Regions from separate parts of the Homo sapiens genome. Here region 1 is linked to region 2. Evidence: fine-mapped expression QTL. A gene starts in region 2. The other region holds a variant in brackets. All regions are shown on one strand. Distances are between the middles of the regions. Region 1 overlaps TRPV5 (transient receptor potential cation channel subfamily V member 5). Region 2 holds the start of TRPV5 (transient receptor potential cation channel subfamily V member 5).

What was found. PIP is the estimated chance that this variant, and not a neighbour inherited with it, causes the effect.
Region 1: its variant is fine-mapped to the expression of TRPV5 in monocytes (TOPMed, PIP above 0.99).

What each region holds. Positions count from the first base shown.
Region 1 is chr7:142,902,033-142,911,663 of GRCh38, reverse strand. It overlaps TRPV5 (transient receptor potential cation channel subfamily V member 5), which reads left to right. Exons shown (of 15, transcript NM_019841.7): 14 at 2,068-2,174; 15 at 2,856-3,563. The coding sequence ends at 3,150. Among named protein-coding and RNA genes, the nearest start is that of TRPV6, 21 kb to the right of the region's middle. RefSeq lists a silencer at 9,557-9,631. The variant T/C (reference allele first, on the strand shown) is at 4,867.
Region 2 is chr7:142,929,221-142,938,851 of GRCh38, reverse strand. TRPV5 (transient receptor potential cation channel subfamily V member 5) reads left to right here and starts at 5,106. Exons shown (of 15, transcript NM_019841.7): 1 at 5,106-5,520; 2 at 8,406-8,503; 3 at 8,672-8,794; 4 at 9,287-9,424. The coding sequence starts at 5,393. It overlaps LOC105375542 (a long non-coding RNA gene), which reads left to right and starts at 1,902. Exons shown (of 2, transcript XR_928065.1): 1 at 1,902-2,446; 2 at 3,006-3,125.

The DNA of each region.
Region 1 (9,631 bases), 27 kb after region 2:
CTCATGGAGCTGACGGTTTAGTTGGAAAGACGGGCATGAAGTGAATGACTTCACAAAAAGCTGTAAAATTACAGCAGCAAAAGTGCTATAGAGAATGTAAGGTGCTAAGAGGAGGATACAACAGAGGAATCGGACTGGGAAGTGAAGACATGCTTTCCTGAGGGAGCAACATTTAAGATGAGAACCCAAAGGTGAGCAAGAACTAGGTAGTTAAAAGGAAGGAGGGAAAAGGATGAAGGTCAAGGTTAGTAGCAATTAGGACTCTTGGCTACAGGGACAGAAAACCAAACTCAAACAGACTTGCAGATTTTTAAACAGGGGGAAGAGGATGTGTTAGTCCTCATAAATGGGAAGTTTAGAGAATTAAACTAACTTTAGAGGTATCTGGCCAGAATGCAGATCCACATCTTATACATTACATCCATTCCTCTGTTCGGCTCTCTTTTGACCTCTCTTCTAAGGCAAGCTCTCCCATCGTGTTTGTGAGATCATTTCTAGAAGCTCCAAACTCCAAAAAGAATGAGGATGTGCAATGCAACACGCAGCTCCGAGGGCCCCACTCACGTTGTATTCTGTGAGGCTCCTGGTGCCAGGCAAAACTGCAGGCTTTAAAAGAACATCTTTCCCCCTGCCAATTCCTTCCATGTTCCATCTCATGGGAACACATTCGGGTCATAGGCACATCGTTGAATCTAAGGAAAGACCAAGGACTAGATAGTGGAGGTGTTGGTGATGGTGGTGGAGGGGAGGTTTGGGGGAAAATAGATTAATTAAGCACAACTGTGTGAAGCCCAGTCCACTCAAACCAATGCACTAAAAGTGATGAGGGAGCAATTCCCTAAATGAAAAATGGGTGCTGTTACCCGAGGAAGGACGGGGCTGCATGATGGCTCAGGAGGAACAATAAACATTTCTTTCAAGGCAAAGAAGAACAGCTATCCAGGGTAAGAGCACAGAATGACTGGAAGTCCTGAGCTAGGAGGGAACTTGGTGCAATTAAGAAACTGAAAGAAGTGTGGAGTAATGAGGAAGATAGGGAGTAGAAAAACATGAGGTGAAGAATTTGCTATTTTGAAGATTGCACTCCTTCAATTAGGAAGCCTTCCTGGTTCTGATCTATTCTGATTGCACCCTTTTGTCCATGCTCTAATAGATCATGGTTTCTTTGAAACTAGAATAGTCCCCAGTATGATTAGGGCAATGCGGTACAAAGCGGGACTATGCCTTTCCTTACTTGGACATAATGCTAAGGGTACCTAAAGCTGAGTCAGGTCTTTTAGCAAATATACAAATGGCCCTTATTAAGCTTGTGATCAGCTAGCACTCCCACACCTTTGTTCTATGACTCACTTATCTAAGCTTCCTAAATGTAAATATAGGACCTTAGATTTGGTTTACTTAAATTTCTTGTTAATGATTTTACACCAGCATTCCAATCTAGCGAGATAATTTTATATTGCTTCTGTTGCCCCACATATTACATATCCCTCCCAGTTTTGTGTCACAGGCATATTTGATAAGCTTGTTTCCCATGTTTCATCTAAGTAATTAATGAGGGCTGAGCAAAGGACAGAACGTGTGGTGGACTTGCTACCAGAAATTTCCCTGCCAACTTGCAGTCATTAATCAACCCTTTTCCTTCCTAAGATGTGGATATTTAATTTGCTGAAAATTCCCTGAACAGTAACAGTATCAATTCATCCCCAAGATCGTAGAGATTCTCTTTAATCATTTTATTTAAATCGAGATAATTGGTCTGTGGCTTTTATATGAAAAAGAAGTTGAGATTAGTTTGGAGTGACTCATTCTCCATGAGTGAATAGTAATGTAAGGGCAACTATTTTATTCAAAACACTCACAAAAAATCCTCTCTCATTTCTTGATGAGTGAAGCTGGTTGCATGGTGCCTGGCACAGGCTGTGGGGTGAATAGGTGGCTGTTCTCACCACTGACCTCTAGTGTCCTATCTCACAGATTGCCTTTGGTTCCCTTTATCAGTGGCCTCAGTGCCTCTTTGAACCTCATGGCTCTTTCAGAGTTCTTCCTGTATCTCCTGCCTCCTTCCAGGTCGTGGCCACCACAGTGATGCTGGAGCGGAAGCTGCCTCGCTGCCTGTGGCCTCGCTCCGGGATCTGTGGGTGCGAATTCGGGCTGGGGGACCGCTGGTTCCTGCGGTGAGTGATGGTGTGCACATGCAAAACTGCAGATGTGTATAAGGCCACGGAAGCAAGGGTGACCGACAGGCGTCCTGGAGCCTACATTAGCCTGTCTAGGGGAGGGGGCTGGAGCTGAAGTGGAGGGGTACGAAGAATGCTGTGTGTACCTCAGGGCAGCCACGTGTAAAAGGTTGTGTGCATGTGTCCATGCTCAGACGTCAGCATGGGTTACCAGACTTGCTGTAACCTTGTTCTGAGCTGACCTTCATCTCCAGTGTACTTTTGGCTTGGATCTAACTTCCTCCTTCATATTCTGCCCTCATCTCCCGGCGTGACTCTCCTCTCTCCTCAAATTTACTTCCTGAATTGCATCTCGTCATCCTTGTGACACGCTTATCTATTAGTTGGCTCTGTTTTCTCTTTCACATTCCTACGTATTAGTAACACACAAACACACACACACCTGTGTGCGTCCTACCACCCTGCAAGCCCTGATTGCTCAGCCTCCATTATCTCTATCCCAGGTTAGCCTGCCCTCCATCACCTCCCTTCACTTGATCCCAGATACTCTTCCTGTTTCAACTCTGCTGCCTTATTTCTGCTTCCCTCTTGACCCTGCTTTCTAAATGGTCACCTCTACTTCTCCCCTGCCCATGTCTCCCCACCTGGATTGAGTCCTTTCCCCTTTCCCCTTATCAGGGTTGAGAACCACAATGATCAGAATCCTCTGCGAGTGCTTCGCTATGTGGAAGTGTTCAAGAACTCAGACAAGGAGGATGACCAGGAGCATCCATCTGAGAAACAGCCCTCTGGGGCTGAGAGTGGGACTCTAGCCAGAGCCTCTTTGGCTCTTCCAACTTCCTCCCTGTCCCGGACCGCGTCCCAGAGCAGCAGTCACCGAGGCTGGGAGATCCTTCGTCAAAACACCCTGGGGCACTTGAATCTTGGACTGAACCTTAGTGAGGGGGATGGAGAGGAGGTCTACCATTTTTGATTAACATCGCTATCACTCTTGACCTTACTCCCGGTTGGCCTGGGGGCGGGGACAGAGACGGAGACCTCTGCCTATGCAAGTGTCTAACTTCTGTGCCTGTTAATCATGGGAGGGTGAGACAGAACAATCCCTAAAGGGTCATGCCTCACACTTCACATCAGAATTTCTGGCAATGGGCAATGGTCATCGATTGTCTCACGTATTTTCTGGGCTCTTGCAAGTCACCCATCTCAGGAAAAAGGAGGTTGGCAACTAAAGACATGAGGCAGGGATGCTAGATTAATGTCAGGACCATTTCTCTTCTGCCCCACGCAGCCCCTAGAAAGTAGTAAGCTGTGAGGCTTTTCTGGCTCCCCAGGGCTTACGTGGGAAGAGCCAGGCATGGCATAGAGGTTGTGGCCCTTCTTTTTTTCCCAGCCTCCTGTAGGTCTCTCTCTCCACTTAGCAAGCAAACACCAACTGCAATAAAAAAGTCTCCTTATTCTTGCCTTCTTTAATTTTTTACTGTGGCACAATACATGTCACATAAAATTTACCATATTATCCATTTTCAGATGTGCCATTCAGTGGCATTAAGTACATTCACATTGTTGTGTAACCATCACCATTATTCATTTATGGAACTTTTTCATCATTCGGAACTGAAACTCTAATCCCCATTGAACAATAACTCTCCAGCTATCTCTCTGCCCTGGTCCCTGATAACCAATATTCTGCTTTCTGTCTATGAATTTAACTATTCTAGGTATCTTATGTAAGTGGGATTCTGCAATCTTAGTCCAAAATTTGACACAGTTTGTTTATTTATTCATCTACCAATGGACATTTGAGTTTTTTCTACCTTTTGGCCGTTGTGAATAATGCTGCTATCAATATGGTATACAAATATCTGTTCTAGTTTCTATTTTCAGATACTTTGGGCATACACCTAAAAATGGAATTGCTAGACAATTCTTATGTTTAGTTTTATGAGGAACTGCCATACTGGTTTTCACAATAGCTTTCACCATTTTACATTCCCTTCTAATGGGTGTGAAGTGGCTTCACATTGTAGTTTTGATTTGCCTTTCCCTAATGACTAATGATACTGAGCACGTTTTTATACACCTATTTATTGGATGTTTATATACCTTCTTTGGAGAAATGTCTTTTCAGTTTATTTGTCCATTTTCGAATTAGGTTTTTGTTGTTGTTGAATTGCCTTATCTTTGCTTTTTGAGGCTCACAGTCTGAAGTGTTTGCATCCTGGTGTGTTTTTAAGAATGTATGGTAAATTAGGCCTATATTTGAATGGCCTAATCATTTCTTTTCCAGGACCCTCCTGCTCTGTCCCTAGCAGCTAATCATCCTTGTGCCTGGAGGCAACAGGCTCCTGCTTGTTCTCCTGACATAGCCATCCTCCATTCCCATCTCCCTTTGCCCCACACTGAGTTGTGAAAGGAACAGCAACAATAGAGGAAGGGTCATCCCTCTCCAGGAGGGAAATTAGGAATCATGTGTCCAGGGCACCCATTATAGGTGCTCATGGTCAGCCTCTCTTGTGTCTCCAGCACTATACTTCTAATCCCAGCCCCATCATCACCCTTAGCAAAAAGCCATGTCAGCTTTTCAAAGGACTGTGGTCTGGGATAACAAAGAAGTAAGTGGTATTTGTGAAACCACAGACAGTTAATTCAGATACACCAGCCCAGGGCTGAGTGCCCAGCAGTGAGGGAT[T/C]GCACAATGTGTATACACACGCCCGCACACACTGGGACACAGTGGTGGCAGGGTATGTAAAACTGCTCAGTCACCATCATTCTTCTTTATTCTCTTCATAGTAGAAGCACTTTAAAATTCTGCTTCTGTAGTCCTTTTTTTTTTTTCTTGAGACAGGGTCTTGCTCTGTTGCCCATGCTGAAGTACAGTGGTGTGATCACTGCTTACTGCAGCTTCGACCTCCTGGGCTCAAGTAATCTTCCCCCATCAGCCTCCCAAGTAGGTGGCACTACAGGTGTGCACCACCACACCCAGCTAATTTTTGTATTTTTTTTAGAGATGGGGTTTTGCCATGTTGCCCATGGCTAGTCTTGAACTCCTGGTCTCAAGCAATCCACCTGCCTCGACCTCCCACAGTGCTGGGATTACAGCATGAGCCACTGCACTAGCCCTGTAATCTTTTTAATACTTGCTTAACTTGTCTATAAACTTATATGTCTTTTGATTTGAGCCCTTGGCCTGCCCCCAGGTATTGTCCTTTGTCCTGGCTTGTGCACCTGGTATGTAATTAAAATTGCTTACTGCCTAGGTTTTTCACTAAAATAAGAATTACTAAGAGTTAACATTATAAATTAATGAATGTAATTAAAACTACTAGGTACATACAATGTGTATTAAACAGGTAGGCTGTGTTTTTTTTTGGAGAACAAATGTTAAAATAAGTCATGGGAGTGTGGTTCTTTTTTAAGAGAAAGTGTTTTTTTCTAGTTTAGAGGATTTTAAGGACTGTTTCAAGTTAACAGAAACGACAAAACTGAAGGTTTAAGCAAGTCGTAGAAGGTTTGTGGAAGATTGATCTTGTAAAAGGAATTTTGTGTGTGATCAAGTTTGGCTAAAATTTTAAGGGGATTATTTAGATATTATACAAATTGAACATTCATATAAATAGCACATTGATGCAGGGTCAGAATCTGAGCACCTGTGTGAGGCAGGATTTTCTTGGAATATTGATGTGTTCTTTAACACAAATTTGTAAAGTTTATAAAAGCCTCATGGAAATCTTACCTTACAATCAAACTAATTAAAATTTGGTAGATTTGCTTATAAGATTCTATTAAAGCTTTAGAATTAACAATACAGTAATACAAAAATAAAATTTGGTTTTCTCTTTTAAATAAGATTTTTGTATAATATTAAGAGATAGTAAAAGATTTTCATTTGCCCTTTGAATAAACTGCCAAAAAAATTAAAGAAGAAGGAGAGGAGAGACAGATTCAGTTGGCTTCACACTGTCTCTATTAGGTCCTATTTTTTAGAAAACTGAGGTCTTCTTTATCAAGGAGTAAAGATTTCTGCTTTTTTTTAAAATTGGTGAGTTATCACTTTAGCTAAATGATTATAATGACCTGTAATCTCATTTTGCGATATCAAGTGCTTTAAACTTTTAATGTTGGACTAACTTTCCAAGATTAAATTCTAAATGCAGTCTTTTAACCTCAAACTGACTTTTAAATGTCCAACAGAGGCATATTTGGCTTATTTGATATGTTAAAATCATACAGGAGGCATTGCCAAGTATAAAATGGTGTGTAACTTTCTTTGAAATATATTTATATAAATGTGCTATTGTTATGTGTTCCAAAATTGTATAATATTCTTATAATTTTAATATGTCTTGGTATATGTGATCAGTAATAATTATAATTATGGTAAATTATTGTGTGCCACAGAAATAACCAGATTTCCTTGTCAATTATATCTTTGACTGTGGATATCTTTTGTCATTCACAATTATTATTTTACTTTGTTCCTTTTCAAAAAGTTGCTTATAATCAGTTATAGGACTCTGATGGTGTATTAGTTCATTCCCATGCTGCTATGAAGAGATACTTGAGACTGGGTAAATTATAAAGAAAAGTTTAATTGATTCACAGTTCTGCATGACTGGGGAAGCCTCAGGAAACTTAGAATCACTGGAGAATCACCTCTTCACAGGGTGCCAGGAGAGAGAATAAGTGCCAAGCAAAGTGGGTAGCCCCATATAAAACCATCTGTTGCCCATGCTAGAGTACAGTGGGCAACTCACTGAATGAGTGAGTTCTCATTAGAACTCACTAGCATGAGAACAACATGGGGGGAACTGCCCCCCATGATTCAATTACCTTTCACTGGGTCCCTCCCACCACATGTGGGGATTATGGGATTACAATTCAAGATGAGATTTGGGTGGGGACACAAAGCCAAACTGTATCAGATGGATACTTTTAAATGCAGGTTTCTGACAGCTTTGGAGATTGTGCCATTAAAATAGAGGAAAAAAATCTTCCAGGACACTCCTGGAGATCTGATGTATTCATGAGGATTGTTGACCCAATATCAAATAGAACAGAGGTTAATTGCATGAACTGAGCTAATAGAAGACTAAAATAATTTTTTGTGTGATCTTTTTGTCTGAAACATTGGTGATTCTTTTCATTTTTTGGGTTGTTTACAGCTTTTAACAATTGAGTAAAATATGCTCTTGTGAGCAAAATTTAAAGCATATTTCTTTCTCTCTACCTGATTTCTCCAGAATTTGAAAACTATTTTTGAGTATTCTTAATTTATAACAATATAGTTATTTGTATGAGCTCAATAAGAATCTGCTTTCTTTTGTAACAGGACACAATTGGAGACTATTATTTTACTAAAGCTTTGACTAGAATGAAATATTTTAAGCTATAAACAAAACAACAAACTGTTTTAAGGAATTGCCATTGACTTATAGAGCCAATAAAAGATCCTTAAAAAAACTGGCCTTGTACCTTGCCTACACAATTCTTTTACAGGGTTCCCAACCTGTGATAAGTAAAGAACGTTACTTTCTGGCAGGCCCGGGAACCCCAAGTTATCTTGGGATTAAGAAGAGAGGCATTCGCCCAGTTCATACAGATATCTGCAGGCACAAATAAATTCTTGACTGGGCTTGGGGCCTTTAAAAAGTCTAAACTAAGATTCCTTAAATAAAAAAGTTTCCAGCAAAGTCAATTTTAAAAAAGCCTAAATAGAAAATAATTATTCTTGCTGCACTTTATACAAAGAATCAGGTGAAGTATAATACAACTAAAGCTTTTCTACAAATAAATTAGTCCTACTATGATTTGTCTTTGATAAAAATGGAGGACTGAGATAAAAATTATGTTTTTTTTTTTTTTTAAAAAAACATATAAAACACCTCTTCTTAGACCCCACCTTATCAATTGTTTCTCAGTTTCATTCTTTGTTAAAATGCATTTGGACTGAATCCTAAGTCCTTTCCTGGCTACAAGTCTCCAAACTACTGTTCATTTTTTTTTTCCTTTTTCTTTCATTTTTTCCCTTTTTTTTCTCATTTGGAATCTAGAAATTAAAACTAGAAATTTTAATTTAAAATTAAATTAAAATTAAAACTGTGCTTTTCTTAAAGTTCTGCCAAGTGAAACTTGAAACTTAAACTTTGGGAAAAGTAACAGCAAATTATTTATATATATAAACCACTTTTGTGCCTGCCTACTCATTCATGGACTTCAGAGCAATATAGCCTAAATCAGTTTTCCAGGATTACTTTCCCCTTTTGTTGTCATGATCTTTCCTCCTTTTCTACTGGTTTTCTTTCTCTCTTCTTTCCCCTATTTTTCTCTGTGGAACATGAAACTTCACAACCTGCTAAGAATGATCCTTTCTAAAATGAGGGACCTAACCCTCTAGAAATAAACTGTCCTAGTGACAAGGGATCAGACCAAACCTGAGATCAGACACTCACTTTCTTCTACAATGCTTTCCCTGAAAGATTTGGAAGAACAGGGTGGGAGGATGTGAAAGGAAAATAACATCTTGGGACCTCAAACTCACTATGTGAAAGGGAAAAGTTAAGTTTGGAAACTGAGTCAAACTTTTGGAAGTTGCCTTTCTTCCAAAAAGTTTGGAAACTGCCTGTCTTTTTGTTCCTAAACAGATAGCCTCAAGACAGAAGGCCACATTAGCTCCCCAGATGGCCTCCTTCACCCTGACATTATAAATTAACAGTTTATCTTCACGGGTACAGGAGAAGAGAAGAATAGAAATCGTCCCTCCTCCTACCCTGGGATGAAGGCATATTTGACTTCTTCCTCTAATTTACTTTGTCTTATGTAAAGTGCAGATTTACTGAGCATGACACAAATACATAAATGACTGTTCCTCTGTCCCCTGCTTCTCACATGCAACATGTGGATTCAGTGAGCACTAATCAAAGCCTCAAAAGAATGTAACCACTTGTCTACTCTCCGCCACTTTTCTTTAACTTTTCTCCTTCCCCTCCTGGCCACTTAACCCCTTTAAATATTGAAGCCTTCAAAACCCACTTTGGAAAAAGTGCAGGCCTCAGATCTTACTGTGGCCTGTGTCTCTTTTTCCTGTGTCCTCAACCTTGCAAAATAAACCTGTAAATTGATCGAGACTTGTCTCAGACATCTTTTTCTCAGTTTACAACTTCCACTCCTGTGCAAAGCTAAACTCCCATCTGTGTTCTAGATCCATTCCTCACTCTGTCTTTTCACACCCTGTGTCCATCACTGTCTCCTCTGACCCCTCTCACGTGTGTATCTTCAACTTCTCCTTCTCTGGTAGCTCTGTCAGCAAATAAGCATGCTCTATTCTTTTGCATTTTCGAAGAAACTGCAAACTCCCTCCCTCAACCCCACCTCTTCTTTCAGCTACTCCCTGTTCAGGGCCAAACTTCTTAAGAGTAAATCCCATTGTCTACTGGCCTCCCACTGACACCTCAACC
Region 2 (9,631 bases):
GAAAGAGACCGAGACAGGCAGAAACTGAGGGGTAGAGACAGAGAGATAGAGACGCAGAGACAGAGAGACAGATGAAGAGAGAGTGAACGGAGAGAGAGCGAGAGACAAAGAGCAGGGTGCCTTGCAGCTGGTAGAGCCCATTCACACCCTCTCTTCACCCTCCCCTGGTTTTCCCACTTTTCTAGCCTTTGTCCTCTTGTACCACCAGGTTGAAACACCCTCTTCTTTCATTTTACACCTTTCTGTACTCTTAGACGAAAGAAAAGGTTGTTAGAGGCTCATCTCCAACCTCATTGCTTGGCAAAAGGAGTTAGAGTCTGCAGAGAAGCCGCAGTGCGGCAGGGAGTCTAGGATCCCAAATAACAGATCTGGGAGAATCCTGCCTCAGTACTTGGATGCGCCTCCTGCCCATGAGCCTGGTGAGCACAGATCTGTTGGCAGTAACCGGCTGTGGGTAATCACCCCCAACTGCTTCTTGGGCAGAGATGGTTGGAGGGTTGTGAGTTAGGGAGACAGAATGAAGGCCTTTTTTCGAAAACCAGCAACAGAGACATAGGCCATTAGATGCAGGATGGCTGCTAAGACAGGTAAGAGAAGACTTTAGTCACTCCTGAACTCTCATAACCAGTTCACACTGCTCCTGCTCATCCATGCATACCAGACCTGAATGAAATACCACATGCAGGTCCAAGGACACTGCGGAGACAGGCACCCTTTCTGCAAGAGGGAACTGCAGACAGAAACACACAAAGAGATGCTTTCCCACAGAGTTTACTCGTGTTAGCAGACATGCCCACATGGATGCTGTCTCACATACAGCAGACACCATCTCTTACACACTTCCTGATGGTCCAAGCCAGATGACAAGGGACTAGGGAGTGGTACGGAGGTCGCTTGAAGGTGAGTAAGGAAAGATTCAAGTAGGCAGGTGACCCTGCTCACCCCACCTTGAACCCATTGACGTGAGATCCAAAGAATGATGCTTGAATGGAAAAAACCATCACTAATCTCCTCCCTCCTGGCTATTTTGGGGGAGCAGCCTCTTGGTTTCCTGGCAAAAAGAGAAGCCATCTCCAGCTCTGTGGGAATGAATGGGGAGGGCGGCTGGGGTGAGAATTGCCTCCCGGGCAGGCTTGAGTGGAAATAACTGAGTTGTTTCCATTACTTCCATTTCCTTGCCACCACCACCCGCCTGACCTCCGCAGTGTTAAAAGAGATAAATTCTTGCAGAAAACAGGGAATCCCTTAAATATTTTTTCTTATTACAAAGTAGAAAATATAGAAAAATACAAAACCCCAAAAAGGCTAATAATTCCACCATCCAGTGATAATCACTTTTTTTTTTTTGAGATGGAGTCTCACTCTTGTTGCCCAGACGGGAGGGCAATGGCACGATCTCAGCTCACCTACAACCTCCACCTCCTGGGTTCAAGTGATTCTCCTGTCTCAGCCTCCCGAGTAGCTGGAATTACAGGCATGTGCCACCACACCCAGCTAATTTTGTATTTTTAATAGAGAAAGGGTTTCTTTCTGTTGGTCAGGAAGGTCTCGAACTCCCTACCTCAGGTGATCTGCCCGCCTCGGCCTCCCAAAGTGCTGGGATTACCGGTGTGAGCCACTGCGCCTGGCCACAGTTAGTTTTAAGGTATGGTATTTGAATCCTTTTCTTTCTTTCTATTTTTTTTTTTTTGAGATGGAGTCTCTCATACTGTTGCCTGGGCTGGAGTGCAAAGGCGCAATTTCAGCTCACTGCAACCTCCACCTCCCGGGTTCAAGTGATTCTCCTGCCTCAGCCTTCTGAGTAGCTGGGATTGCATGTGCCTGCCACCAGGCCCAGCTAATTTTTTTTTGTAGAGACGGAGTTTCACTATGTTGGCCAGGCTGGTCTCGAACTCCTGACCTCGTGAGGCGCCCGCCTCGGCCTCCCAAAGTGCTGGGATTACAGGCATGAGCCACCGCATCCGGCCCTGAATCCTTTTCGTAGATGGCTGTGGCCACGTAGGGTGGGAGTGTAATTTTTAAAAATGGAAATCTAGGTATTATGGTTCCTCCTCCTCTTTATTATGTTAGAATAAGAGGTCAGGCTGCTTTGGCGTGAAGGGTTCTGGGACTTGACGGTGTAGTTTGGTGCCCCCAGCCCAGTTCTCCCGAGTGCCTGGAGGCATTACTGACCATTCATCAGTGGCAGGGAAGCTGCTCTCTGAAGGCGAGAGTTTGCAGATGTCCTCACTTGCAGAAAGCTGAGAGAGGCATGAAAAGAAAGGAGAGAAAAGGAAAAATAGAATGGTGATGTCGAATATCACAAGAGGAAGAAACAGTCTGGAGAGAAGGCAAGGAGAGAACAGGAGAGACTCCAAATCTCTGGTCTACCAGCTGGGACTGCCGGGGGACACCATGGTCCTCACCCAGGTTACTTGTCCATGCCCTTCCCACTGGAGAGGACGAGGTAGGCAGAGAAGGGCAAGTGAGAGGGCGAAGGCCCAGGGATGGCGGGTGGGGGGGCCTGAGCATTGGGCCTCCCCTTTCTCTTCCCCAGACCCCTGGACATGCCCTTGGCGGCAAGTCCCTGCACACCTGCTCTGTGCAGCTCAGACTGGGCCAGCCTCCTCCCCTGCCGGCCCCCCATGTCCCAACCCCCCCGCCCCAGGACCAGCTTTATGGGTTGTAGTTTCCTTGGCAGGTGCTCCTTTCCTGACCTGCCTCGCTTATCAAGGCATCTACAACCCCCACCTCACCCTTATCGCTCCCTCCATCTCCTTAGACTGGAAGTCACTCCACAAGGGCGTCACCCCCAGCGAGGCAGAAAAATGTCCCACAAGTTGAGCCCTCCCCACTCCCAGTGAGAACATAATTCCACTGTATCTTTTTTTTTTTTTACTTAACTTTTCCTTTTGGCTTTTAATAAGAAAAAGATCCAAATTTTCCCCCTTTTGAAACATCAATGAACACTAGCTCCTCTTAGTTTCCTTATTTATTTTCCTTTCAATTCTTGTCCTTCTCTAAAGGTTATTTTGTCCATCCCTCAATCTTGGGAGCAGATCTCTCTTTCTTACAACAAAAGAAGGGGGCAGTCCCCACTCCTCAAGACCCCCAGAGGGAGAGTCCCAGCGTATCCTCACGCTGGTCTCTCACACCTTTACAGCCAAAAGATTCCCAAGAAGCAACAAGGTCTGGAGAGTGGTTTGGAGCTGAGATCCCAAGTTCATGGCCAGTTACAGTCTCGCCACTAGCCATGGGACTTGGGGCCAGCACACCCAAGAATTCTCACAGACGGAATTCTTCCTTGTTCTCATTTACCTGATAGGTCTATTGAGTGAATGCAATTCAATAATATTGATGTACCTCTTTGAAAACAATGAGAACAGAATTGAACAATGAGAACACTTGGACACAGGAAGGGGAACATCACACACCAGGACCTGTCGTGGGGTTGGGGGAGGGGGGAGGGATACATTAGGAGATATACCTAATGTAAATGACAGTTAATGGGTGCAGCACACCAACATGGCACATGTATACATATGTAACAAACCTGCATATTGTGCACATGTACCCTAGAACTTAAAGTATAATAATAAAAAAAATGAGAACATAAATACAAGCTATCATATACAGTAGTCACCTTTTATCCTCAGGGGATACATTCCAAGACGCCCCAGTGGATGCCAGGAACCTTAGATAGCACCAAACCCTGTATATACTATCTTTTTTCCTACACGTACATACATACATACATACATACATACATACATACATACATACATACATATGATGAAGTTTAATTTATACATTAGGCACAGTGAAGAGTTTAGGCCGGGCATAGTGACTCACGCCTGTAATCCCAGCACTTCAGGAGGCCGAGGCAAGCAGATCACCTGAGGTCAGGAGTTCGAGACTAGCCTGGCCAACATGGTAAAACCCTGTCTCTACTAAAAATACAAAAATTAGCCAGGCGTGGTGGTGGGCACCTGTAATCCCAGCTACTAGGGAGGCTGCGGCAGGAGAATAACTTGAACCTGGAAGGTGGATGTTGCAGTGAGCCAAGATCACACCATTGCTCTCCAGCCTGGGCAACGAAAGTGAAACTCTGTCTCAAAAAAAAAAAAAAAAGAGTTTAACAACAATAAAATGAAAATTATAATAATATAAAGTTATGTGAATGTTCTCTTTCTCTCTGTCTCTCAAAATATGTTATAGTACTGTACTCACCTATTTTCCAACTGTGGCTGACCTTAGGTAACTGAACCATCAGAGAGTGAAACTGTGGATAAGGGAAACTACTTAATATATAAAATATAATATAAAATATATAAAATAGTGCAACATTACTTATTCCTCCTGGTGTTTCATTCCTGGAAAGAGTCCCAAACATGGAATCACGATTTATTTGTCGTCTACCTTTGCTCAGTTTCTGCTGTTCAACCTCCATAATAACTCGAGGCCCCTGGGGGCTCCTCTGACCTGCGTCCCCAGGTACCAGAGCCTGCTCGGCGACGCTCCAGGAAGCTGGCCGGTCACGGTCATGAGGACTTCTCACAGAGAGGGATTGGCCTGGGAAGTGGGGGTCAGAAACCCTCCTTTGAGGTACAGGGTTGAGGACAGAGATGACCACAAGACACATAAATGGGAAGCTCTGAGAAGCAGCCCGGGGGTCTCTTGAGCCCTCTTGTGGAAGGAGGATCGGCAGTGATTGAGTACTTGTGACACATGCTTTACAGATGCTCCCGTGAGACGGCATAGCCGTTACCCCAATTTCACAGGTTAGGAACTGAGGCTCAGAAAGCTCACCTAACTGTAAGGGATAAGAGTCAGGATTTGAACCAGGCTCTGCCTGACTCTTGAGCTGGAAGTCTTTATTTCCTCCTCTCCCTCATGCAACTAACTGTGCACCTTGTTTGTGGACCCACCTTCCATCCCTTTTCTTTTTCCAAATTCCTCTGCCCCACCTCTTAGCTTCTCGGGTCTCAGCCATCCCAGCCCACAGTTAGGAACCTTCCTTCCCCTCCTCCTTTTCTTCCCCAGGGTGGTTCTGTGGCTGTGGGGCTCAGCTCTGCAAAGAGCTCCTCCCCCTCCAGGAAAAGCACTTCTCCCCAGGCAGGGCGGTCAGTCCCCTCAGCGCACCTGCATGCACACACACCACCTCACAACCACACACTGCATGCACACACATACACCACAGCCACACACTGTGCATACACGCACACCCCACAACCCACATACTGCATGCACACACACACACCTACAAGCTGCATGCTGCATACACAAGTCATACAGGAGATAAACTCAGAGTCCCAGCCCCAAATAGACCCCATCTCTTGCTCAGTTGCTGTCATCCTAGACCTGTTTCTTTCGCCACATTTCTATAATCTGCCAGTGTCTGCAAGGAGAAGACATGGGGGGTTTTCTACCTAAGGCAGAAGGGCCCGGGAGCCAACTCCAGAAACTTCTGCCCTCCTTTCTGGTCAGAGAACAAGACTGGGACCAGCACCTGGACAAGCTTCATATGCTGCAGCAGAAGAGGTAGGCTTCCTAGAACGATCCGTGGCCCTACCGCCGTGATCCTCAGACCCTCTGACCCACCTGGGCCTGCTTTCCGAATACAGCACCCTAGAAGTGTATTGTCAGTGCCAGTCACTCAGACATACCCTTTCCTTCCAGCCCACCTAATTACAGAATCCCAGCTGGCCCCTTTTAGTGGCGGTGGAGGATGTGGCTTTGGGCCACACAGGAAAATCTTGAGGGTAGACCTAAGGACAGAGGCAGAATGACAGCCAAGGGGGAGTGAAAGGACCAAAAAGGACCAGAGGGAAGAAGCCAGGTTGTGTGGGATGGGGAGGGAAGGCAGAAGCAGGCTGCTGAAGAAGGGATGCACTCCTGTGGGTGGTGGAAGCACGATAAGGAAACGCCATTCATTTGAATGAAAGTGGACTGTGTGGGAAAGGGGAGGAGCGCTTTGTTTGGTGTAACACTGGGTGCTGACCAGTGGAGGAGGGCAGCTCAGGTGACACTGGAGGGCTCTGAGTTCAGTCCATCTGCCTTTTATTGAGTCTACTGTGTGCAGAGGGGTGTTAGATCCCAATGACATAAAGATTGAATGAGACTTGTGCCTGCTCCTGGAGAGCTCTTAGTTCGGGCAGGGCTAGCACACCTGCAGGTAAATCATTTCATGGCTTAGCCCTGAGGTCCAGTCCCAGGAAGAGCAGCTGGGGCAGGGACGAATCCTGTGGGCTGCTTCTTCCTCCAAGTGTTTTGGGGCTTGCCTCCCACCCAACAGCTGCCTGAGGGGTGAGGTTGTTGAGCAGACATTAGCAGTCACAAAGGGCTCCCCTGTACTCCAGAAGATTCCTGTGCTTTGTTCAATGCCCTGCTGTCCTCATCTTCAAGTTCTTAATAATTTTGAACAAGGGGTCCTGCATTTGCAGTTTACACTGGGCCTGGTCCCAAGTACCTCTGAGCCCTCATACTGTCAAGCCCTCTGCTTCCTCATCTCCCCACCCAATACCTCCAGTGGAATCTCACCTTCCTGCTTTAGAGTGGGACCCCTGGGTCTCTGAGAAAGTGAGCTTCCAGCCCCAACTTGGACCCTCTGCAGAGGGGCAGTGGGGATAGAGGGCCAGGGAGGCAAGGACTTTGTTTGTGCAGTGGCCTCAGGATGGGGGTGAATTTGCAATCTCAGCCCTGACCACTCTAGGCTGGTCAGGGACACCAGGCTCCCTGGGACTGATTCCCTGGGTGAGACGGGGCAGGGAACTGACTCCTCACAAAGGCCCCTCCTAGGAGCACTGCCTTAACAGGTAAAACCAGGCCCCACCTTTAGATTAAAAGCTTCTTCTTTAAATGAAAACACTTTGGCTGGGCGTGGTGGCTCACACCTGTAATCCCAGCACTTTGGGAGGCCGAGATGGGTGGATCACCTGAGGTCAGGAGTTCGAGAGCAGCCTGGCCAACATGCTGAAACCCCGTCTCTACCAAAAATAAAAAAACTAGTCAGGCATGGTGGTGGGCACCTGTAGTCCCAGCTACTCGGGAGGCTGAGGCAGGAGAATCACTTGAACCCAGGAGGCGGAAGTTGCAGTGAGCCGAGATCGCACCACTGCACTCCAGTCTGGGCAATAGAGTGAGACTTCGTCTCAAAAAAAATAAATAAATAAAATAAAAACACTTTTTCGCCCTGGCTCCTGGGGCTATTGGAAGAGAGGGATTTGGAGGTGGGGACCTCAGAGGAGCCACTCATCGGCCTGTCCTTTCTGTTCTTCCCCCTACACCATGTGCTTGCCTTTGGGGCCAATACACATATGTCTAGTTGGAGAGGCTCCAGCTTTATCTCTTTCTGGGTTCAAATCTGGGTATGGTAGAAGCAAAGATTAACAGAGGTCCTGTAGAATGAGTATCTCAACCTGTTTTGCCTTGAGACACCCACATAAACAAGCTGTTTAGACCTTTGCATCTAAGGGTATAATGCAGAAGAAAGAGGCACCCTGTAACTCACCCCACAACTCTCCACCCCCTGCAGGGACCTGTATCTAAATAACCTGAGGATGCTGGGCGCAATGTAATCCCAGCACTTTGGGAGGCCAAGGCAGGCGGATTGCCTGAGCTCAGGAGTTCGAGATCAGCCTGGCCAACATGGCAAAACCCCATCTCTACTAAAAATACAAAAAATTAGCTGGGCGTGGTGGTGCGTGCCTGTAATCCCAGCTACTCGGGAGACTGAGGCACAAGAATTGCTTGAACCTGGGAGGCAGAGGCTGCGGTAAGCTGAGATTGTACCACTGCACTCCAGCCTAGGCAACAGAGCAAGACTCTGTCTCAAAAAAAAAAAAAAAAAAAAAAATAGCCTGAGGGAGTAGTCAGAACTTTAGTGCCTCACAAATTTCACAAATTTCAAAATGCCTAGGAAAGATCTAGCAGTCGATCCATTCCTCCTCCCTCTGTGTTTTGGTCTCCCAAACTCCCCTTGGTTAAAGACAGTAGATTCAGCAGGCCCAGGAGCAGGGGGACCGCAGATGGAAGTGCCCTCTGTCCCGCTCTCCAACTATCCAGGATCTGAGACAGTTACTCAGGTTAGATGAATTCAGCCAAGCCTAGGGTCCTCTTCTTAGAGACTCTCAGACCACTCTTTCCAGACTACAGGTTCTCTTCCTATTAACTCTTCCCCTCCAGCAGAGCTTCAAGGGCCATCCTCACAGGAGAATCACCATGATGTGAATTGCAAGGAAGGCCCTGGGGCTGACCCTTGCCCAAGTCCACCCTCGGTCATTCGAGTCCAGTAGGCACTTCTTTCCAATTTGTCACTGCACGCTGTGTGAGTCACGTTGGTCTTAAAGAATGTCTTAGATCCCCTTTGCTCTTGGCCTCATTCTGCTATGACTGTCTCTTCCAAACTCACGTTCACCTTTCCCCAGGATTCTAGAGTCTCCACTGCTTCGAGCATCCAAGGAAAATGACCTGTCTGTTCTTAGGCAACTTCTACTGGACTGCACCTGTGACGTTCGACAAAGAGGTGGGATCTGGATTTAATGGGATGGAGGTGGGGGCAGAAGAACCTACTCCTCCTCCCCAAGACTTCGAGTTTGTGAAATAGGGCCTTGGAGGGTGTCTCTGGAGCCTGAGGCCCCTTCCTCAAGGGAATCTGAAAAGTGTCTAACATCTCTGTCTTACTCCAATCCAGGAGCCCTGGGGGAGACGGCGCTGCACATAGCAGCCCTCTATGACAACTTGGAGGCGGCCTTGGTGCTGATGGAGGCTGCCCCAGAGCTGGTCTTTGAGCCCACCACATGTGAGGCTTTTGCAGGTAAGGAGCCTACATGGTAATTCAAGGTGGAAACTTTGAGATGGAGGGTGTGCTGTTGTCTCTTAAAATTGGCCTCTGAAGGATGGGTTGGGGTGGGGTGATGGAGGGTCAGGAGGATGGGCTCCGTTGAGTTGGGAGAAATGCAAAGGTCCTGGTCTTGGCTTTTACCAATCTGTGGCTTCCTTCAGCATTTCCTTTCAAACCTCCCATAGTCCCTGTAGGACCTATCTCAATTTCTTTCTCTCATAGCAACATGAGAATGATTATATTCATAGCAATCCCCTGCTGGCTCCCAATAACTGAAGGGTAGGTCAATGAGCAGGGCAGCCTGAGGGATGAATTGCTCTTAGTCCCAGGCCACCCTGCCAAGCCCAGGGCAGAAGTCTAGCAAAGATCTATCAGGAACCTCCTGAGAGGGATGGTGGGGGATGCTGTGTCCCTGAGAGAACTGGGGACAGAGGGAGACCCTGATGATGGCTGTCTCTGGGCCAGGTCAGACTGCACTGCACATCGCTGTTGTGAACCAGAATGTGAACCTGGTGCGTGCCCTGCTCACCCGCAGGGCCAGTGTCTCTGCCAGAGCCACAGGCACTGCCTTCCGCCATAGTCCCCGCAACCTCATCTACTTTGGTGAGAGCAGGGTTGGGCTTGAAGGATGGTTGGCTGGAGAGGCGGGCAAGGCAGAGGGAGGCCAGGGCATGAGGGTCCTGCCTTCAGCTCCATCTGTTGGGCAGTTGAGAGGGGCAGCCCTTCTAGGGCTTAATTAAGCCAGAGGCCCATTCCCCTGATGGTTCCTTCCTCTGGTTCTGCTGGACGAGTGTCCCTCAGCCTAGAACT